Linked DNA regions of Homo sapiens: region 2 is linked to region 1. The links come from fine-mapping of genetic effects on gene expression. Tissue or cell type: atrial appendage. Region 1 holds a variant in brackets; the other region holds the start of a gene. All regions are shown on one strand. Distances are between the middles of the regions.

What was found. PIP is the estimated chance that this variant, and not a neighbour inherited with it, causes the effect.
Region 2: CASQ2 starts here. The variant in region 1 is fine-mapped to the expression of CASQ2 in atrial appendage (GTEx, PIP 0.99).

What each region holds. Positions count from the first base shown.
Region 1 is chr1:115,337,242-115,345,349 of GRCh38, forward strand. NGF (nerve growth factor) reads right to left here and starts at 1,008. Exons shown (of 3, transcript NM_002506.3): 1 at 963-1,008. The region is part of intron 1 of NGF-AS1 (NGF antisense RNA 1); the gene reads left to right. The variant T/C (reference allele first, on the strand shown) is at 3,932.
Region 2 is chr1:115,765,468-115,773,575 of GRCh38, forward strand. CASQ2 (calsequestrin 2) reads right to left here and starts at 3,247. Exons shown (of 11, transcript NM_001232.4): 1 at 2,841-3,247. The coding sequence starts at 3,074. RefSeq lists an enhancer at 6,300-6,559.

The sequences.
Region 1 (8,108 bases):
TCGAAATTTTTTTTGTTTTGTTTTTGTTTTTTTTTTTTTTTTTTTTTTTTTTTTTTTTTTTTTTAGAAGGAGGTTTGTAATTAGAGGGAGCTAAGCTGCTTGTTTCTGCTGGCTCAAAGTTGCAGCTCCCTGACCCCTGAGTCCTCTCTCCCTCCCCTAGATCCTCCTCGCCTGAACTCAAGGCGCTCCCCGCCCTAACCTTCCACGCCCGCTTCTCCCACACCTGGCAGCAGACAGCTGGAGATGAAGCGTGTGACCCAAGTGGCAGGGCTGAACCTTGGCGACCTCTACCTGAGGTTGTCCAACGCGGCTCCGTGGAGGGCCCCGGTACGCCGGACGGACCCCGGCGTTGGCTCGCAGACTTCCTGCGTTAACCCCCGGGGCCCTCAGTCACGACTCCCAGCCCTTCCGAGACGCGCTGAGGGAACTGCCCCAGGTCTAGCGCGCCCCGTTCCGCTCCTCCCCCTACCTGGGGGCCGCGCAGCACTTTCCCTACTCGGCGCTCACCTCAGCCAGCGCGCTCTGCGCTCCCCCCGCGGTGCTGGCCGCCACTCCTCCCGCCCTGGCGCGCCAGCTGCCGGCGCATCCCTCTCCGCGCCCATTCGCTCTCCCTCACTTGCGCGTTATCCACTTCTAGCCCTCGAGCTAGACCCTGGCATGGCCGTGGGCTTCTGCAGGCGCCAGGGCTGCTCCCTGGACTGCAGGCCATCCTGGGACTAGGGACTCCACGACCAGAACTAACGCTGTTCCCTCGGTCCGACTCGTCCTCCCGCGAGGGTCCCGCGCCCCCACACCCACTCGGGACATTTCTCAGGGCTGCTCTTCGGCCTGCGGGAGCCTCGGGGGTAACCAGAGAGCTCGCCAGACCGGTATCCTTGCAAACTCTCCCGCGAAGCCCAGCCACCCCTGCCCGCGCCCGCGCTGCGCCCCTCTCGGGATCGGCTCGGGGCAGCCTGACTCACCGCTGCGCTCCCCTCCGGCTCCCAGCGCTCTCTGCTGTGCCGGAGCGCCGAGCTGCTCTCACACAGGCTTCTTGAATTCTTAGCCCCTCCTCCCGTACTCCTGAGTCACACGCTCCAAATCCTGGCCCCCATCCCTCCCCTCCCCACCACCAGCCCCGCACCTGCTGTGGCTGGGCTGTGGTGCCCGGCTGGAGGGGGTCCTGGGGACTACAGACGGATCGCTCCTGGAGGGCTGGCCAGACCCAGCCAGAGAAGGACTTTAAACCTTCAGAGGTCAAAGGGAAACCCACTGGGGTCTGAGGGGCCGCGCGCGCAAAGCCGGGAGGGGGAGTTTCTGGGGCACCGGCAGGGGTCGTTGGGCCGACTGGCTGGGGCTGGGCGGAGTTGCTCGCAGCTTCCCTCACCTCTCCGCCCTGCCCCCGCGCGTTGCCCTTCGCCAGTGCCTCCCTGGTCTGCCCGGCGTCGCCCTCGGTGCCCCAGGCATCGGCTGCTCCTTTTCTTCGGGGCGCCTTTCCTTATCCCAGGATAGGTGAGCACCCAGGGGGAGCTCCGCGAGGGGCAGGTGCCCAAGCTCCTCTGACAAGGGAAGGCGGCTGCAGAACCAGCTAGAAGGCCCCCAGGCCCGGCAAGTCCAGCATGGGGACAAGGGGCAGAGGACTTCAGGAGTCAGGAGCTAGAGCCGGGACCTTAACTTAAGGCCCTGGGTTCCAGGAACTTCCCGGAGTCCTTGGCCCCTCTGAAACTGTAGGCTGATTTGCGCGACTGTGTGCAATGCTAATATTCTTTTCTGAGCTGAAGGTCCGCAGCTTTCATCAGTTTTGCAAGGGGTCTGTGACCCCAGACTGATATAGCCAGCAAACCCTAGGCCCCCATGCCCCCCTCTCCACACTCCAGGCCCCACACAAATTCTTCCTGACCCTTCAAAATTTCTTGAGTTCCCTCGATTCAGCCTGACAGGAGAGCTTGCCTGACTTTCCCCTGCCCCTCTGCCAGGGCTGTTCCCACCCCAGCATAAAATGAGCAAGGGAGAAATACCCCTGAAGTCAAATTTGTCACCAAATGTGCATCATTAATTGTAGCATTCCAGGGGATTCGTAGCTCTTTGGAAATTTACAGCCCCACTCCCTCCCGTGTTGAGCTTGTCTGTGCCTTCGCTTCTTCCTATAGCAAAGGTGGGTTGGACCCCTACCCTGTATGGATGCCACAGAGGAGAAGTAGGTGTGAGGAGAGTAACAGGGAGGGAAGGTGGGGCACAGAATCTCCCTATTGCTGGTAACACCAGCCAGTGCAACTTAGCAGAAGGGCACCCTCCAGGGAACTGGGATTTAGTGAAGCAGATGATTCCTGTCCTAAGTCTGGGGGTGGTCATTTACCCTTAATGGATGGCACTTGAGCAAGATGAAGCCCTGACTAGGCATTTCCAACTCCCTTGATTCAGATTAGTCTTGAGGTCTTACTTCTTTCTATTTTCACGTTTGCTCCCATAAGAAAGTTCATTCCATTTACACATGCTCTGAGAAGGATGAAATAGGCAAAAAGCCCTGGAATTGGAAGTCAGCCTTAGCTTTGGTGTGACCTTGTTGTTTCCCAGCCTTAGGCTTGTCCACTTCTGACTTGTTCAGATACAGGCTGGTGTATGAACACACTTTGGAAGTGAGGGCAAGAGGCCAGGGAACACTGTGAATGGCCCTTTCTACAAAAGTAGTATCATAGTCGAGGTGATCCATTAGGAAATTTATCATCGTCAATTAAACAAAAGAATTTCCAGATAACAGGATGAATTCATCCATCAATCATGTCATGTATAAACTTGTTTGGAAAGCACTAGCCCCAAGCCTTACATAATAGCTGCCTGAGAATTTGGGTATGAAATTAAACTTTTAGAATAACAGAGAATTTGGTTGTTGAATGCAGAGCATTTGTATGTGTTCTTGTGGCATCATTCAGAAGGACAAAAGGATTTGGGACACTTGTGGTTCTTTTCCATGTGGTATGTAAGGGGGAAACTTTAAGTGATGTAAGCAGATTATAAGTTTGCTTATATGCTCCATCCTCACCCCCTAAATTGTTGGTCATATTCTTCTTGCACATGTTGATTTAATAAGAGCTCCTTTCTGCCCCTAACTACCTCTATTTCTGTCCCTGGACTTCAAGGATCTTGAGTAAATAAGAACATGTAAACAACAAACACAAAAATACTCCAAAGATTATTGATTGAGAGCCTACCATATGCCAGGCACTGTGTGCTGGCAGTGGTACCGGCTCTCAGAGAGCTTATGTTCTAGTGGGGGCTTGATTATTAGTCCCTGGCCATGTTTATCACAGTTTCCCTAGGTCCTAGCATAGGACCTGGCCTATAGTAGGTGCTCAGTTAATACTTGTTGAATCCAACAACGGTCAGAGTCATTTGTGACTGTCAGACAACCCACCAACACTGGATTGGTTTCCAGCAGGTTCCAGATCAGCCTGCCTTTGGCACAGAGACCACAGCCAGGTGCCTTTTCCCCTGCCTCTTCCACTTTCAAGAAGGTTCAAACAGAAATGTCCTTCTCTTGGGTCATTGAGAGAAGGACTTCTGGGCCTGGACCAGCTACATTCATAGGAATGAAAAACAGCTGAGAGGGCAGCGGCCAGAGGAATGGTGCAGACAAGCAGAGGATAAGAATGTTTTTCTGTACTAGATTTTCTCGAAAGAGCCTTTTATCCAGGGTATCAAAATAACCAGCAGCTGATGCATTTGCTGACTTGGAGGAGAGATTGTGGCGTGTACAGTAATTGTTGTTATTTCTGAAGATCTAGAAGGCTGCAGCCATTGAGTGCCTCATCAACAGCAACAGTCAGCTAGCACAAACCCCTGGCTTCTCCCTTGCTTCATTCCAGGAGGCCAGGACAAAGTGCATGTGCTATTTAAAACACCAGCAGGCTCAGCAGAGATCTGCCAGCAAGGATGGAATCACTGGATCTGCTAG[T/C]TCTTCATGTGAAACACAGAAATATTGTCCCAATTGCTGGAGGAAGTGATAGCTTCCGTTTAAAGACTTTTTTTTCCTCTTCCTTCTAATCAGAGTGAAGAAGAACTTCAGAAGAGGAAATGTTTCATAATGCTTAGTGAGATGACATGTTCACAGAATCACAGAAATGATCAATCCAGCCACCTTATTTATGGATGAAGAAACAAGGGCTCAGGAAGGACAAAGGCTCAGCCAAATACACGTGGCCAGTGTCCGGCTTTTTGACTTCTAAGCAAGCCTTCCTTTTACTACACTCCCTGAAAGAGGCTGGGAGAAAAACTGACCAATTCAGTCTACAGGAAAAAGCTGGTAAAGGAGCTAAAGTAGGCAAGGGTGCAGAGAGGGCCAGGGGTGCCCCCTTCTCCTCTGGGCTATCCCTGCCTACTCCTGTGGCCTGTTCCTGGCTTTTGCTGTTTCTCGCTGAGATCTCCAGTTCCTCCATCTCTACTAGTTCCCTCGCTTTTGCTTGTGAACATTCACTTGCCTTTTCTCTCTTAAAGAAACTGCTAGCCCAAACTCTGGATTTCTTAGCTTCCATTCACTACCAAATTCTTCAGCAAGGTAATCTATACCCATCATTTCCTTGGCACCCCCTCCCCGAAACTTTCTGCAACCAAGTTCCCATCTTCCTCCCCTACCTTTCCTTTCTCCCTACTAAACTGATAATTTTTTTTAAAGGTCGTTAGTTGCAAGAACACCACCAACACCAACACAATCTCAGCAGCATTTATCTAGTGCTTGCCTTATTTCAAGTACTGGGCAAGGCATTTTTCCTAGCCTTATTAATTGGTCCTATTGATTTGTAGATAAGATGAAACTCTGAGAGGTAAGTCACTTCCCAGGTCTCATAGCTAGCCAAACGGCTGAGTAGAGAATTGAACCCAATCCCTTGCTGTTAAATGCCACGCCTCCTCCTCCTTTCAGCCAAGCTCAGCTGACTTTGACAGTCCTAGTCCACTCTATTCATGACCTCCTTTGTCTACAACTTTCCTTTCAGAACTCCTGTGACCACACTATCCTGGCTTACTAGCCACCTCTCTGATTTCATCTGCCCTCTGCACTCATGGGCCTCCCACAACTCAGTCCTGGGGCTTTACATTCTCCTCCACTCTTGTTCTTCCAGGTGTTTTTTTCTACTAATTTTATAATTCCAAGCATGGTTTCAACTCTGGCCTCTCCTTTAATCACCAACACTTTGAGTGTTATGTGCGAAGCACTACCTAGGTTCTTGTTTCAGCGAATCTGCACAGGCCCTGGCGAGGACTGTGTTTCTGCCTCTCCTCTGACTCTCAGCCCCTCCATCCAAAGCCCTTGCTCTTAACTCAGCCAGGCAGCTGCCCCACAGATCCCATTCTTGAAAGGTCAGGAAATCCACGTGGGCCCAGGACAGTTCAGCTCTTTTCCTGCAGCCCAGGAAAGTCACCAGTTTGGAACTGGCAAGATTTAGCCCATCTGTCCTCTTAAGTGGTGTGTCCTTGGGAGAAAGATTGACCCTCCTTGAGCCGTAATAATAATAATTACTTTTCATTATATGGAGTGAATATGTTAAACAATTTTCAAGCACCTGCTACGTGCCAGCCCCATTCTAGGTGCTGGGGATTCAGCAAATGAACAAAACAGCCTATAAACACATAGAATTTTTTATTTTTAAATTTTTTAATAATTTCAACTTTTACTTTAGATTCAGGGGGCACATGTGCAGGTTTGTTACAGGGGTATATTGCCTGATGCTGAGACTTGGGATATGATTGATCTCATCACCTAGATAGTGAGCATAGTCCCAACAGTTAGTTTTTCAACCCTTGCCCCATTTCCTTCCTCCCCACTCTAGTAGTCCCCAGTAGATACATGGAATTTAAATTATATTAATTTGCGTCACCTATTTAATAAATGTGCATTATTTAATGTATATTATATGCCAGGCCCATAAAAGTCAGTTGTGATTTTGGTGAGTTGCAGGGCAGGTGAGTGAGACAGATGCAGACACAGTCAGTGCCAACCAAGTCAATGATCTCCTTAGGTGCAAGGAGAGTCAGGTGAGCCCTCTGGGGACTGGATCCTCTCCTCTGCTGTCCCGATTCAAACAGCTGTGAGCCTCCACCTTTTCAGGCTGGTCTGACTCCAGTCTCCACAGGAACTGGTCTCCACAAGAACCCCTGGTGACCCTGTGGCTTTCACTGGTGCTTTCTTCAGAGTCCCCTGAGGCTCTCTCACTCCTCTCCCACTGAGCCAAACCCTCAGTGTCCCTCACGAGCCTACAGCCAATTCAAGTGTGCCTCCATCTGGGTCCTCACTATACAACCCTCCCTGGCCCTGGAGTTGGTACATTCCTATTAGGGCCACCCAAGAGATACCTCTGGGGCAGGATTCCCCAGGGATCAAGTTTGCCTGCATAGCATCACAGCTGCTCTTTCCTGTCACATGGTATCATGTTGACAATTAAGGTTTTGTGGTGCTGAGGCAGGCAAGAACCCCACACTTTCATTTGTGATGCTCCTATGCAGGAGTCTGGGATAGATGGGCTCTGCCACATCCTGGGTAGATCTCTGTCCCTTCAGTGGTGACACTGAGCTCACTGCATTTATTAAAATCCTATCCTGGGGTAGAATCTGTGTTAGGTACAAGGAAACAAAGATCAAGAAGAAATGATTATTGCTATATAGGAACCTACTATCCAATGGGGCATCAGACACATAAACTGATAAGAAATCTGTAAGGGAGGATCTAGAAGCTGGAGAGATGGGAAATTCAACCAACTTAGAGCTTTGCCTTTGTTGTCATCCCATTGCATTTTGCATAAATTCCATATTCTTTGAAGAGACTTACGAGGCTCTGTGTCATCTGGCTCCTCCAGCCCCTTCATCTTCCTTTCTTGCTACTTTCTTTTCTTTGCTCTAGCCTCTGCCGTGGTGAATTTACTTCAGTTCATTTCACAAGCAGCACCAGCCCCACAGGTCCTATATGGTGTTTCCAGTGCTTCAAAAACTTTTAGCCTTCTCCCTACTCCTTCACCTGTCCATTTCCTCTTCCTCTGAAACTCAGCTCTGAGAATCTTCAATGACATTTCTAGTCAGGTGATTTCCCTGATCCTCCAAGTCAAGACTGAGTGCCCTTTCTAGGTGCTTCTCCAGCCCTCCATATTGCACAAAACACATGCTCAATAAATCATTTAAAATGAGATATTGCCCAAGATAAGCTTTGAAGCATGTGTAGGAGCCAGGAGAAGAATGCTGGGAAGGACATCATTTGAGACAGAAGGAACACTTTTAACCAAGGTGTGCAAGTGTGAGATGGTATGTTGCGTACGGGAAACTGCAGCTGATTCAGAACTGGTGGGGCATGACGTGGTAGGAGATACTGCTGGATCAGTCACTGGGAAGGTCGAGGAAGGCATGGATAATGAAGGGTGAAACCAAATGCAAAGAGACCACCTAGGGCCGGTAGTTATAGTCAGGGTGAACGGTGATGGCAGCAGCCTGATCCATGCATGGGGAGCTAAGCATGCAGAGGAGACATTCAAACAAAACTTAGCGTGTAAATTCATCAGGAAGTGGGGAATGGCTGGATGCAGGGGTAGGGTGAGAAAAGGGTCTCCTGGGTGCCCTTTGGATTCCTGATTTGCCTGAGCAGGTAAATGATGGTGCTGGCTATGGAGATGGAGCATCCAGAGGTGGGGCCTATGTAGTGGCCTTGGAAGCAGGGGTCTTCAATTTAGGATTTTGCTGGGCCCATGGAATACTCAAGGACATATGTGCAACATATGGAGTTTGGAGATCAGGAATGATGTCGAGGCTAGCTGTCTCTGCACACTGCACACAGGCTGAAGGCAACCAGTAGCATCATCTCAGAGTCTCCACTGAGAACTTACCTCCCCATCAAGCCACACTCTCACTGTCCACCATGTTGGCACCATACCAACTATGGGGCATCTCCCAGAGGCTAGAACCCAGGGAAACAGATCACTCGCTCCAGTGTTACCTGGTTCCCTCCTTCCTGTTTATTTCTATAATACTCACTCTCCACCTTGAGGTGCAGGCCAAAGTGTGAGAGCAATTGGGTACCCTAGGGGATGACCACCTTGCCTTTCCCATAAAACTCTATGATCAAGCTCTCCAAGCCTGGCTCTTTATAATCTGTG
Region 2 (8,108 bases), 430 kb after region 1:
TAATTCCTAGAAATTCCTCAGGTGTTTCAGCCTGGGGATGGCAACTCCTCACTGGAGAGGGAAATCAACTTAATAGGTTGAGATCAATTTTTAAAATGAAATAGAAGAGAACAGGATAAAAATAGAAAAAAAAATTTAATTCCCCAAGTAATAATAATAAGTATAGTTCATATGAAATTTTTGTTTCTGGTGTGTGTGTGTGTCTGTGTGTGTCTGTATATACTGGGTCATAGTCGGTTATGATAAAAAGTGTCAGAAGCCGCCTTAAGCTGCGAGGGGGAAGGGAGCTGCCTCCCCTCCAGCTATTTGTCCGTGGCTGAGACCACACTGCCTGTTGGATGGACACTGGGAACTGCCTCCTCTTTTCCCCCTACCCCCTAACAGCCACAGCCCTGGAAGCTGACAGACTATTTTTCTTAGTGCAAGTGTGGGGTCTAGAGGATTAAGAGGACAAAATAGATGTTTTGACCATGAAGAAAGTTTAAAGGCATGTTCGCTCTTTCCACTCATGGACTTCCCGGAGCCATTTTTTCCCTTGATGCTGCGCCTGACAAGTATCTCAACAAAGGCCCGCCCCTTCCTCAACCTTCACTAATGGAGCCCAGGCCTCCTCCTCAGTTTGCACTTTTGCATGAGCAGCGCCTCCAGGCCATGTACTTCTCGGCCATGCTGGTGTACAGCTGGCATCATCAGACCCGGGTCCAGAGGCTGAGCAACTCTGTTTAAGGAAGACTCTTGAAACCATCTTAAACAGGCTACCCAGAAGCCCCTTGGGCGTTTTCGCACTGATTTCAGGAGTAGTACCGTGTAGGTGTTACGTACAACTGCCTTCATCTGTAGTAGCTGTGTGACCTTGGACAACTTAGCCTCTCTGCTTCAGTTTCCACATCTATAAAATGGAATTGGTAACTGTACCTACTTAATAGAATTATTGTAAGGATTAAACAAGCTAACACATACCAAGTGCTTAGAACAGTCCCTGCACTTAGTAAGCATTTAATCAACATTATTATTATTTAATCATTTCTTAAGCTGCATGATAGTTACTATTTTTCCATATTTATAGATAAGAAAATGAAGCTCTGAGAAATTACGTAATTTGCCCTGTGTCCTGTGCCTAGTAGAGACAAAGCCAGAACTTAAATCCAGATATCCTGACTTCAAGGTCTGTGTTCTTTTTCTCCTAATGATGCCTCACTCCAGCTTTAGCAGCCTGAGGGGCATCAAATTAACTCCTGTGGTGAACTTTTCCTTATCGGTCTCTGCTGGGCCGGCACCCACTGTGAAAAGGGCACTCTTGGATCAAAGGTGTCTGGAGGGATGGTAAGCCCAGGGGAAGTTTCTGTTCATGATTTTGCATAGTCTTTGGGGACAGATATACTTGGGGGAGCTAGAGATGATAGATAGATAGATAGATAGATAGATAGATAGATAGATAGATAGATAGATAGAAGGATGATAGAAAGATATTTCTTTTTTAAAAAAAATTAGAATCAGAAATGAATGTCCTTGCCTGTACTGGCCACCCAAAGGCATTCTTTTGGAGTTCTAGGCTAACTGGACAGCGATGAGCATATAGGGGAGAATCCTTATGCCTTCAATTAAGTTTTCATAACAATGTCTCTTGATAACTGAGTATGGCAGTTTGAGATGGAGATATAATGTAAGTGTTGGTTTCATGTGCTAAGCAGCAGCTAAGTTCTATGTCTCGTTCTTTTCCAGCCTGTGATTTGCTCATTTCTATAAAATAAAGTCTTAATAACTATCCCTGCTTTCTCTTTTCTTGCAACCCACAGAGAGAACTGAAATTCCACATTCAGCACCCAAGGTTGGAGATATACTTTTGATGTATTTGGGATAGTTTTGCTGGATTTTATTACAGTCAATTTTTCAATTTGAAAAAATTCAAATCCACATGGGTTTTATATGATAATCCTATTAAACTATTTCATCAACCTGAGTTCTCTGATTGTGCTGGTTAATAAACTGTAATTCTCAAATATCCCTTTCACAGGTTTGCGCCTGGGCTAGGCGTGGAGACTGATGAGGCATCTTGGTGCCCACTAGCATTCTTGGCACCCTCAGGCCCTCTTAAAGTGTAAGCCATCTTAAGCTGTCCAGGAGGAGCTGCAGGAATAGTTTCTGGGGCACTCGCAAAGGATTAGAAAATGGGCCCCAGTGCCAGGTTACAAACAGGCAGGCCATGTAATGCGGATAAAATAAGAACTGACTTCAGCTCTGCCCTAAAGTCACACCAAGAACTTTCTGAGAAAAAAAATCACATAAATGAATATGCTGCTCAGAAGATCTGCACACAACTACATTCTGTAATGCTGACTGACGCAAAACAAGAGAGAGGAAAGTCATTTAGTGATATTCTCCGTCTGACCCCCAGAGAGACGCAAGGTCAAGTAACTCTGGTCTCTCCAGGATCATGGGGAGATTTGAGGGAGCAAAGTGGGCACACTGAATGAAATCCACAAGTAGTCCCTGGATTTCATTTCAGCCAACAGTTTTAACAATAGTTTCTACATTCTATCTGGGAAACAATGGCTGGGACAAGGGCCCTTGAAAAGTCAAGGGGGCCATAAAGACTTTACATCAGACCCATCGTAGTGTAGCACGTTTGGTCCTCTTCATTTGAAGAGTTAGGACCCACCCCTCATTGTTCACACATCCCAGCTGTGTGACAAGGGCATCTGATTCACGTGAGGCCAAAATAAAGCAGAGTTCAGTATATATTCTCTGCATCCTCGTTCCCATATCCCAACCCCTGGCCAAAGGCATTCCCTCGGCACCTCACTGAGGCAGCGCAGACAGCATGCCCTTTGGTTACTTACCTCAAGCACGATTTCTTTCAGTTGGAACTGTTTTTGCGTGACCTTATCTGAAGACACCGGCTCATGGTAGTAGAGGCAAAGCAAGTCATATTTCTTTAAAACCTGCTTGAAGTTCTTCTCGGAAAGACTTACCACTCGGTCCTTCCCATCATATGTGGGGAAATTAAGCCCCTCTTCTGCCCTGCAAGAGGACAGAAAATAAATCCCCACAATAAACAAGTGAGTTCTCTTCATTTGGGAAAACTTTTGTTTCTCGTTCCCAAATATGCTGTGTGCAGAATAGAGGACAGAAGACTGTTAGAGGCCTTGTTGAGCCAAGGAGAGAGCAGACAGGCTGATTTTCTCTCTTCTTTGCCCTTCCTGGGGCTGAAAAGTGACTCTTCACCTCCTTGGGTCCAGCCAGCTCTGGAATCGTGGGCTCAGGACAAAGAGCAGAGGCACACACACACACACACGCACGCACGCACGCACGCATGAGAGTAGAAAAACAGCCAAGCTAGGGAGGCTGGGAGGCCAAGCCCCAGATACCTTACATAGCTCTGCTCAGCCTCTGTCTCATTAGGAACTCCATTTTTAGGATGCAGTTGTTTCAGGCTAAAAATAAATCATGCAATGAATAAAAAAGTTAGATACGACACTGTAGAGGGATTCGCTGATACAGTCTGTCCGACTGGTGAAGAGGGAAGAGGCAGAAGGAAAAAGACAAGAATGTACACGCATGAAATAAGGAGGCTAGAAAGGTCAAAGAAGAGAAAGAAACTCGAGAGGGAGAGAGATAAGGGACTATGGTGCCAATAAGCAAATGGAGAGTTCAAACATACGGAATGACACTCATACATTACTGAATTGTTAAATCACCCCAGGGTGGTAACTCAGCCTGTCCCCTCACGGTGGTTGTTCATCCTCTGTTCCTCACTGCAACATGGAACAAAATGGAGCCCCGAGGTAGACTTCTTCATGTTCTACTCCTGTCTTTTTCTGCCTTCCCTCCTCTCTTCTTAAAAATCCTCTGCCAGCCACTGGGCGAGGGGTGCAGGGACACCCTGCTGAACCCAGCTGACACCAGAAGAACCTGTCCTCATTAAACTAAAATGAAACAAGGTTCACAGTTCAAATCCCTACTCTGCCTTTTAACAGCTAATGAACTTTGGAGGGTCACTTGCCCTCTCTGATTCTCAGTTCCCCTCTATGTAAAGTGGGGCTGATAATAACCATAAAGTTTCAAACACATAGATGAAAAAGCATGGCACAAAATAGGTGCTCAAAAATAGTAGCTATTATACTTACTTCTCATTGGAGCTGGTGGAACATTGGTTATATAATGGATATTTGTCTGTTTCTAATATGAATGGTTTGTGAACCCTTTCTTGTCCATTTTCTCCTTGAATCCAGTAGGCAATTGGGGCAAAAGGGATCAGGGCTCATCCTACCGCTGAGCTAACAGCAACTTGTCTGAGTTTGCAGCATTTCTAACTGCCGGAGCAAGAATCCAACCCTGCCTCAAAGCTGCTGCTCCTGGCTGTTTTGCCTCTGACTCTGGGTGATTCCCTTGCAGACACCCCTTTTCTTAAGTACCTTCTTGACCATCTCTTCCAGTCCAACCCTAGTCCAGTCATGTCTCTCCACTCTTCAAAGGCATCTAGGGCATTCATGATTCTGACCAAGTTTTTGTTCTCCTTCAGTTATAAATCAGCTTTGGAAAGACAGAGTACTCTGTCATGCACAGCTTCTGCAGGGGCTAGAAGGCAAAGAGAAGATCCGTGGCCTCTCTGAGTAAAGCAAGGCTCCCCTGCAGTCAGACGGCCTTACACTGAGAGTCAGGCTGATAAGGGGTTGTCTTGATGCTACACTCTCATGTGCAGAAAGTTGGGGCCTTGAAGAACCCATCACTAAAACCCTTGACGGTATTCCGTTCTTTCTAATGGTGTAGTCTCTAAGTTTTCAAAAGATGGAGCCAAGAATATCCATTCTAAGGTGCACTTAGCTTTCCAAGTCAGTGGCAAGCATGCAAGATCTCTGCTTTCTTTAGGAAATTTAAGGGGAAAAAGATTTCCGAGTGAAACAATGTGTGTCTTGTCTTTTTGAGGTCAGCCTCCCCAGACTGTTCCCAGTTGTCTCGATCTCACTGGGTTACCTTTATTTAGAATTTGCTCCACTTTTCTTAATATGTAAGTAGGTTTTTTTTAACTGTTACTGAAAAATTGGAAGCTATTTAAAGTCAGAGTCTTTTAATTTCCTTCTGACTTATAATTGACAAAACTATAAGGGAAAAGAAATAATTTTTTAAACTTTAGTTTAGCCTTCAACTCTGGTTTACTACAAAAAGCCCGAGCTGTGGAAAGTTCCTGCCCCTAGATCATGGACTCGATTTGGGCCAGGCAGCCCAGCCCTGAGGACATGCAGCCACTGACATATGCTGTGGTGATCAGGTTTCCCCCAAGCATCCATGGTAGATATGAGGTCTACATTCATGCCCCACTCTCAGCAAAAGGTAGGTTTTCATAGTTTACATTTAACGTACCAGGCTTATTTTCTGTCTGCCTTTCATTTTCCTATTTTTGTTTTTCCTCTGTCTTATTGCTCACCAACTTTAATTTTTTTTTTTTTTTTTTTTTTTTGAGATGGAGTTTCGCTCTTGTCGCCCAGGCTGGAGTGCAATGGCGCGATCTCGGCTCACCACAATCTCCGCCTCCCAGGTTCAAGCCATTCTTCTGCCTCAGCCTCCCGAGTAGCTGGGATTACAGGCACGTGCCATCACGCCTGGCTAATTTTGTATTTTTATTAGATACGAGGTTTCTCCATGTTGGTCAGGCTGGTCTTGAACTCCCAATCTCGGGTGATCCGCCTGCCTTAGCCTCCCAAAGTGCTAGGATTACAGGTGTGAGCCACCAGGTCCAGCCAATTCATTTATTTTTTAAACAAAGAATGCTTCACACATTTCTGAGTCAACCTTACATCCTGCAAATCAGCTGTTTTGTTCCAGCTTTAGCTGCGCCCCAAGCCAATGTGTCATGTACTTCTAGTTTATGTGGTTGTGCTGAAATGTGTGCATTTTTATGTGCCATTAGTAGGTACTTTTTGTTTTGTTTTTAAACAAGAAGGGGTAGAACAAAACACACAAATCAATACAAATAAATGTTTATTGTTGTCACAATATATGCCGTAGGCCCCTTGTTTTGCTAACCATTTCCAGTCCTTCACTGTGAGTGGCCGCCAACTACAGTCCCTTAATCTAACCTAGCTCATTTACTTTGTTTATTCTTGACAGGTGGCAGAATGATTTTTCTCTCAGACCATTTTATCTACAAAGAGAAACGTATGTGCTCACGCCTCCCTTCGAAGGTCTGCAGGTCTCCATTTGGGCGCCTCTGAGGTGCCTCAGAGAAAGAACCGCCCCCAGAAAGGCAGGAGACCTGCGTTCCGCCTGCCTGTGTGATTAGGTCAGGAGCCCTGAGGCTCGGGCCCTAGCACTTCCAATTTGTGAAAGAGGGTTAGAGTCACCAAGCTCCTAAGGCCCCCTTTCTGGCTCTAAGATGTTAAAATCTGTTATAAGATTTTCTTTTACCAGGATAGGCCTCAGCCCAACACACAGTGTGATGAAGTCTGATGAGTGTTAGCTGCGGAGGAGGGTTTTGATGGGCGTGACTCCGGACGAGTCCAAGCTTGCCTCTTCTCCAAGGCAAAGATCGCCTACAATGTCACTGCTGCCAAAGGACCCTTCTTTGGCTAAAATACTCCACCCAGTGGACAAAACAGAAAATGGCCTATTTCTTTGCTCCCGTTCCTGGAAGGAAGCACAGCCTATTGGCCTGGTAGAAAGAGTGCAGAAATGCTCGGGTCTAGAGCCCTGTGCTCCATGAGCCTCCAGCATCCTCTGGCCAGATCTAAACAAGCCTGTTAGCAACCCCAAGGCCCTCCTTTTCTCTCAACTTTAACAGGTGGTCCCTGGAGCCTTCCTGCCTCCTCTGCACCAGGAAACTCCTCAACAGAAACGAGCAGAAAGAGATCAATGCTATCCTGAAAAAGAGCCCCAAAGCTCCACCGATATGATTCCAGGTTTTGACAAATGTCACCTACTCAAGGAGGCCCTCAGTGTAGACCAGGAGCGGACACTCACTCCCCTTACACACTATACTTCTCCTTGGAAACACTCCTCTCACGGGAGATCCTTCTCCCTCTCCCCGCTGAACCTCATTGCTTCAGGGGCAGCATCTGTTCACAGCATCCTCATAGCAAGTAGTAGTTCTCATTAAATGCTTATTAAATAAATCTGTAGCATTACTTTGTGTCCGGGCCCGGTGGCTCACGCCTGGAATCCCAGCACTTTGAGAGGTTGAGGCGGGAGGATCACCTGAGGTCAGGAGTTTGAGACCAGCCTAGCCAACATAGCGAAACCCAATCTCTACTAAAATACAAAAAGACAGGCATAATAGCACCTGCCTGTAATCCCAGCTACTCGGAGGCTAAGGCAGGAGAATCGCTTGAGCCTGGGAGGCTGAGACTGCAGTGTGCCGAGATTGCACCACTGCACTCCAGCCTGGGCAAGAGAGTGAGACTCCATCTCAAAAAAAAAAAAAAAAAGCCAGGTATTTTAACAGCAGCAACAAGAGAAGGAGAGACAGAGAGAGAGAAGGAAGGAAGGAAGGACAGGGGAAGGAAGGAAGGAAAGAAGGAAGGAAAAATTTAATTCAGTAGACAAGAACAGATAAATGGAAAGCTTAGGGCTACTTTGTCCTGGAACTAGGGGGGAAATACAGGGTTCTCAGGGGTAGCAGTAAAAGAACAGAAAAAAAAAACCCTAATATGGAGGTCATATCAAAGGGTCCAAATGGAGGGTATGGTAGGCGGAATAGTGCCTTCCCATTCCCCCACCCCCCATCAGGATGTCCAGTATAATCCTCAGAACCTGTGTGTGTGTGTGTGTGTGTGTGTGTGTGTGTGTGTGTGTGTGTGTGTGTGTTGTCTAATATGACCAAGGAGTCTTTGCAGATGTGATTAAATTACGGATCTTGAGATGGAGAGATTAGCCTGGATTATCCTGGTGGATGCTTGTGAAACAGAGGCAAGAGGGTCAGAGTGAGAGAAGGAGATGGAGGATGGAAGCAGAGGCTGGAATGACACAGGCCAGCAGCCAAAGCATGTAGGCAGCCTCTAAGAGGTAGAAAAGGCCAGGAGAGGATTTTCCCTGAAAGCCTCCAGGAGGAATGCAGCCCCACAACCCATTTTAGACTTTTAACCTCCATAACTATAAGATAATACATTTGTGTT